Homo sapiens: one gene and its partner. The protein of the gene in region 2 purifies or fractionates together with the protein of the main gene of each other region. This does not show direct contact. Each region holds a gene or a part of one and is shown on either strand. Other genes may lie near its edges.

The links. Proteins that work in one complex are often made in the same cells at the same time.
Region 1: the proteins of RNF170 (region 2) and ABCB10 purify together in Homo sapiens (affinity purification with mass spectrometry; 2 studies listed by BioGRID and IntAct, with this or other methods). This does not show direct contact.

The regions. Positions count from the first base shown.
Region 1 is NC_000001.11:229,545,207-229,548,711, forward strand, and holds part of ABCB10 (ATP-binding cassette sub-family B member 10, mitochondrial), read right to left. Parts: intron 2,496-3,505; coding exon 2,293-2,495; intron 1-2,292.
Region 2 is NC_000008.11:42,858,603-42,862,107, reverse strand, and holds part of RNF170 (E3 ubiquitin-protein ligase RNF170), read left to right. Parts: intron 1-252; coding exon 253-363; intron 364-3,505. UniProt on the Homo sapiens protein: E3 ubiquitin-protein ligase that plays an essential role in stimulus-induced inositol 1,4,5-trisphosphate receptor type 1 (ITPR1) ubiquitination and degradation via the endoplasmic reticulum-associated degradation (ERAD) pathway.

The DNA of each region.
Region 1 (3,505 bases), on a different chromosome or scaffold from region 2:
CAAAACTATTCATATTTGGAAAACGGCATGTTAGTGCAGGAAGGGTCCTCTTCCAGAGGTTTGCTTCTCTCTTAGCTGGAAAATCATGAGATTTCAAAGCTGTTTTTCATTCCGTAAGTCAGATCTAATAGGCAACACACCCTTCCTCTCTAAGTGCTTCATGGGACACAAAGGACAGAATCCAAGCTTTTCCACTTGTGAGAAAGGATTATTTACAGTTCTTATTCCACGAGTCTAGAACTGCACTGCCCAAAACGATAGCCCTACTGGAAACTTGAAATGTGGCAGGTATGACTGAGACATTGACTTTTTAATTGTATTTAGGTTTAATTAAAATTTAAAAGCCTATACTCCATTCAGTTATTGGCAAACTATTAAGTATGTCTGGAAAACTTGAGTATGTCAAACTACTTTTTCAATTGTACATTTTATAAAATCTAAATATAGATCAAGTACTTTCAATGAAAATTTAGCATCCGAATTAAGATGTTCCTTAAGTAGAGAATACACACCAGATTTGGAAATTCAGTTGACCTTTGAACAACATTGGTCTGAAATGCATGGGTCAACTTATACATAGATTTTCTTCCATCTCTGCCACCCCTGAGACAGCAAGAACAACCTTTCTTCCTCCTCTCAGTCTACTCAGTGTGAAGACAATGAGGATAAATACTTTTGTGATGAGCCGGGCGCAGTGGCTCACGCCAGCAATCCCAACACTTTGGGAGGCTGAGGCAGGCAGATCACGAGGTCAGGAGTTCAAGACCAGCCTGGCCAACATAGTGAAACCCCATCTCTACTAAAAATACAAAAAAATTAGCGAGGCGTGGTGGCTGGCACCTATAATCCCAGCTACTCGGGAGGCTGAGGCAGGAGAATCACTTGAACCCGGGAGGAGGAGGTTGCAGTGAGCCAAGATCGTGCCATTGCACTTCAGCCCGGATGACAGTGCGATACTCCGTCTCAAAAAAAAAAAAAAAAAGCTTTTATGATGATCCACTTCCACTTAATAAATAATAAATATATTTTACCTTCCTTATGATTTTCTTAATACCATTTCTTTTTTCTAGCTTACTCTGTTATAAGAACATAGTATATAATACATATACCAAATACATGGTAATTGACTGTTAATGTTATCAGTAAGGCTTCTGGTCAACAGTAGGCTATTAGTAGTTGAGTTTTTAGGGAGTCAAAAGTTATACTTTGATTTTTGACTGTGTGGGCTTCAGTGTCCCAACCCCTGCATTGTTCAAGGGTCAACTATAATATGAAAGAAATAATATAAAATACCTCATTAATAATTTTGATATTAATTACATCTTGAGATGACAATATTTTGTTTATACTGGCTTAAACAAAACATTATTAAAATTAATCTCAGCCAGGTACAGTGGCTCAAGCCTGTAATCCCAGCACTTCAGGAGGCCGAGGCAGGAGGATCACTTGAGGCCAAGAGTTTGAGACCAGCCTGGGCAACATAGAGAGACCCTGCCTCTACAAAAAATATATATATATATTCTTTAAATTAGCCAGACTTGGTGGTGTGTGCCTGTAGTCCCAGATACTTGGGAGACTGAGGTGGGAGAATCACTTGAGCCCAGGAGTTTAAGACTGCAGTGAGCTATGATCTTGCCACTGTACTCCAGCCTGGGTAACAGAGTGAGACTGTCTCTAAAAAAATTAAAATTAAAAAAAAAATTAATCTCATTGGCTTCTTTTTGCTTTTTTAAATGTGGCTACTAAAACATTAAAATCACATATGTGGCTTGCATTGCCTCTCCAATGACCTGCAGCACTGGGCTGAATAGAAATACTGGTTGAAGAGGTAAGGCAAGCAGACAGGACAGGCACAAGCCACCCAGTTAAGGAAAGGAAAAAAGGCCATGGGAGTGAAGAGCTCTCCCCTTAAAAGAGCACAGTTCGACTTACACACACAGAGGAATGGAATTTAGTCACCGCTTGGTGCCACCCACAGGGTAGTACCCAGTGCTCCTTCTACCTGATGCTCTTTTCTGCCTTAATACCCCGGGTACACACATCTCAGAATACCCAGCAGTAACACATGAGTCCATTTTCCAGATAATCACTCATTCTGGAGAAATGAAGGTACAAGAGGCCATGCAGGCAGAGGCAATCCCCACGTTCCAGCAGCTTCTGCAACAGCACTTTTGGCTCTAGGCACTTACAGAATGATGCGAACCGCTCAGCTTGAGCTCGTCTCACACGTGAGAGGCCTGGTGCAAGCCAAGCCCTGGCAGGAAGGTACCAAGGGGAACCAGGCCCACATACCATCATACTGATGCCTACGGAAGCCTGGGCCCCGGCCCTGAGCCCATCTGAGAGGTTTTCAGTCACTGAGCGCCCCAGGAGTGCAGTGTCTGATGAGAGGCGGTTAATCAATTCTCCTGTGCGAGTCTTGTCAAAGAAAGCAACCTCCTGCCTCAGAATGGAGGAGAATAATGAAGTTCTCAGCCTATTCACAATGCGCTGACCTGCAAAAGCAAACACGAACAGGCTCACCAAGGGTAAAGACATCCATTACCATTATGGGGCAGCCACTTACTGTGCAGCAGCTTGGCCTGGAGTTGTAACCCTCCTGAGCAATGCAGCCTCTGAGCGTGTCTGCTGCACTGTATCCCATGGGTGGAAAGAGACTTTCCCAAACCAGGCACATTAACTGTCATGCACTACTAACACTACTTTTCTCTTATTAACTACAGACTGTGGGCGCTAGTGAGAGGATACAGGAATAAAATAAATATAACATGACTCAGAGGCCTTTTTTATTTTTACTTTTTTTTTTTTTTTAAGAGACTGGGTCTTGCTCTATCACCCAGGCCTGAATGAAGTGGCACGATCACAGTTCACTGTAACCTCAACCTTGTGGGCTCAAGCCATCCTCCCACCTCAGCCTCCTGGGTAGCTGAAACTACAGATGTCCGCCACTACACCCAGCTAACTTATTTTTATTTTTTATATAGACGGAGTCTTGCTATGTAGCTCAGGCTGGTCTCAAACTCATGGGCTCAAGCAATCCTCCTGCCTCAGCCTCCCAAAGTGCTAGGATTACAGGCATGAGCCACCACACTTGGCCGAGATTTTTTTAAGGTATTATTTACAAAGAAGTTTTATTACATTAACTTCCAAAAGCTCATTTTGTTCCTCCCTGGAAACCCTTTCCTGTATTGAACCTTCAAATGGCAAGAATTGGTTAATTATCCACAGAGATAAATGGAGAGCAACAGACTTCGAGTTGGTGTCCCAGGTTCTCTCATTATTGTGGCAGTGACCTGCCTGTAAAAACAAGACCTCTTCAGAGAAATACTAACAAAGTTATCATCCCAGCTGCTACTTAAGGAGAAACACAAGCATGGGGCATGTAAATGGGTTTCTGAAGCCTTCAGGAAGCCTCAGAAGTCCAGCTTCATGGCCAGGGGCCTCATTTTCTTTTTTTTTCTTTTTTTTTTTTTTGAGATGGAGTCTCGCTCTGTCCCCCATGCTG
Region 2 (3,505 bases):
CCCCTGGTGTGGACAGGAAAATATTAGGCCAGTAGTTGGATATGGTGTCTATTTTATAGGAGTTCAAATTCTATGTTGCATTGGATTTTATTGCAAAGCAGTTACTTACTCCCCTCCCCCAGGTTGCCTTTATTTAAAAATGAGTGAAATATAAATATAGAAGCCTTTATCATTCTATTGAATAATAACACAAAATGAAAAAAACATAATGATGCAGAAAGTTGAAATAATTTTTTTTTCTGTAATATACAGGTAACCTTACTCCTAACAGTATTTGGTGAAGATGATCAGTCTCAGGATGTTCTGAGATTGCATCAGGATATTAATGATTATAACCGGAGATTCTCAGGGCAACCCAGATCTGTAAGTAATGCTAAAGCATGTTCAAAGTTAGAGGAAGACACATTTCTTCTCTTTTGTAAAGTGAGGTTTACCAACAAGTATTCTTTGACTATGAGAAATCTTGGCCAGGCACAGTAGCTAACGCCTATAATCCTAGCACTTTGGGAGGCCAAGGCAGGTGGATCACTTGAGCCCAGGAGTTTGAGACCAGCCTTGGAAACATGATGAAACCCCATCTCTAGAAAAAACACCAAAAAATTGGACAAGAGTGTTGGCACATGCCTGTAGTCCCTGCTTCTTGGGAGGCTGAAATGGGAGGATCACCTGAGCCCAGGAGGTTGAGGCTATAGTGAGCCATGATCGCACTATTGCACTCCCACCTGGGTGGCAGTGAGACCCTTCCTCAAAAAACAAGAAAAGAAAAAGAAAAAAAAAAATCTCATTATATGTGTTGGGTCAAGTTTTTACCTTCATTGCTGCCAATCACTACATTACACCTTTCCCAAGGACTACAATTTTCTTTCTTAAAAAACAAACAGCATTATAAAAGTTTTTATGAAAGAGAAACTAGCAGAAAAGCAATAGAAAAAATTAGAGGGAAATAGAAAATTATTTACTTCTTTGTGATACTAAAACACCATTTGTCTTTTGAGAAAAGTTACAACTGAAAACTTTAAGTTTCACAGTTGTGGTTTATTCTATTTGCCCTAGCCCTGTTTGAAATGTTCCCTTAAAAAAATTCCAGGTTGGCTGGGGGCGGTGGCTCACGCCTGTAATCCCAGCACTTTGGGAGGCCGAGGCGGGTGGATCACCTGAGGTCAGCAGTTCGAGACCAGCCTGGCCAACACGGTGAAACCCTGTCTCTACTAAAAATACAAAAATTAGCTGAGTGTGGTGGCAGGCACCTGTAATCCTAGCTACTCGGGAGACTGAGGCTGGAGAATCACTTGTACCCGGCAGACAGAGGTTGCAGTGAGCCGATATCACGCCACTGCACTCCAGCCTGGGCGACGAGAGTGAAACTCCAAAAAATTCCAGGTTTAGGCCGGGCACAGTGGCTCACACCTGTAATCCCAGCACTTTGGGAGGCTGAGGTGGGCAGATCATTTGAGTTCGGGAGTTTGAGACCAGCCTGATCAACATGGTGAAACCCTGTCTCTACTAAAAATACAAAAATTAGCTGGGTATGGTGGTTTGTGCCTGTAGTCCCAGCTACTTGGAAGGCTGAGGCAGGAGAATCACTTGAACCCGGGAGGCAGAGGTTGCAGTGAGCTGAGATCACGCCACTGCACTCCAGCCTGGGCAACAGAGTGAGACTCCCGTCTCAGAAAAAAAAAAGTTTGGAGGGATATGTTTATATGTCATCTTAGCTATTTAAAAGCAGAACACTGTACAGATAACCTTTCTTCCCCTTACCCTAGAAGTATTTGATAAATCAAAAACTAGCACATTTTACTGACTCATTCTTGTTTTATCAAAATCTAACACATTCTTAGAAATGTAAAACTGAATAAGTACTTCAAAAACTAGAATGTACTAAATCCAAATTTATATGGACAGCCCAGACCTCTCCTCTGAGCTCCAGACTCTGTAGATCCAACTGCTTCGCTTCCATTTCAGCGTGGGTGCTCCACAGACATCCCTAACTTAACACGTGGAGTATTGAGCTGATTCCCTCCTTGACATAGTCTGTTCTTTTCTCAGTTTTGATTTCCTCCTCTTCTTCATTCCTCTCATCTGGTCTATAAGTAATCCTACCTTTTCTTTCTATTTTTGGGGTGTCCTATTATTTTTACTGCATCAACATATTCTTGCTGGCTGGGCACAGTGGCTCATGCCTGTAATCCTGGCACTTTGGGAGACTGAGGCAGGCAGATCACTTGAGCTCAGGAGTTTGAGACCAGCCTGGGCAACTTAGCAAGACTTTGTCTCTACCAAAAAATACAAAAATTAGTCAGGCACGGTGGTGTGCACCTGTAGTTTCAGCTACTTGGGAGGCTGAGGTGGGAGGACTGCTTGAGCCCGGGAGGCAGAGGTTGCAATGAGCCAGGATCACATCACTGCACTCCAGCCTGGGTGATCGAGTGAGACCTTGTCTCAAAAAGAACAAAAATGTCTTGGCTGTGTTGTTGTTGTTGTTTGAGACAGATTCTCACTCTTTCCCAGGCTGGAGTGCAGTGGTGTGATCACGGCTCACTGCAGCCTCAACCTTCCAAGCTCAGGCCATCCTGCCGCCTCAGCCTCCCAAGTAGCTGGGACCACAGGGGTGCATCACCACACCCGGCTAATTTTTTATAGAGACTGGGTTTTGCCATGCTGCCCAGGCTGGCCTTGAACTCCTGGGCTCAAGCAATCCACCCCCTCAGACTGCCAAAGTGCTGGGATTACAGGTGTGAGCCACCGTGCCCAGCCTGTGTCCACTTCTTTCAATCACTGTAGACATTGTGCTGGTCCAGCCCTGTCATCTCTGCTCACGGCAACCACAGTGGCCTCCTCACTTCTACTTTTTTCCCTGCCACAGCAGCCTGATACATGTTTTCTAGACATAAATGAGACCATGATGCTCTTGTGTTTGAAAACTTCTATTTTGTTTGTTTGTTTTGAGACAGGCTCGAGTGCGGTGGTGCAATCTTGGCTCGCTGCAACGTTTGCCTCCTGGGCTCAAGCCTTCCTCCCACCTCAGCCTCCCAAGTAGATGGGACTACAGGTGCATGCCACCACAACCCGGCTAATTTTTATATTTTTTGTAGAGATGGGGTTTCGCCATGTTGGCCAGGCTGTTCTCAAACTCCTGGGCTCAAGTGGTCCTCCCACCTCGGCCTCCCAAAGTGGTGGGATTACAGGCATGAGCCACCACTTGTGGCCCAATGTCTTTGAATGTTCCAACTCCTTACTGTGGCTTACAGGGCGCCACATGATCTGGTCCTCCCTCCCTCTCCAAATTTCTGTTAACCGCCTCAATCACCACCCTGCAGCCACCCTGCTCTATGCTCTCAGCACACACACAAACTCCTTCCACCTTAAGGCTGTCACACCTGACACTTCCTCTGCATGGAATGCTTGTCCTTCTGCTCTTATGGTGATTTCCCAGTCTTTAAATGACAACTATCTTAAGTAGACCCTCCTTGGAGAAGTTTTCCCTGCTCTGTGGCGCCCTCTGTAC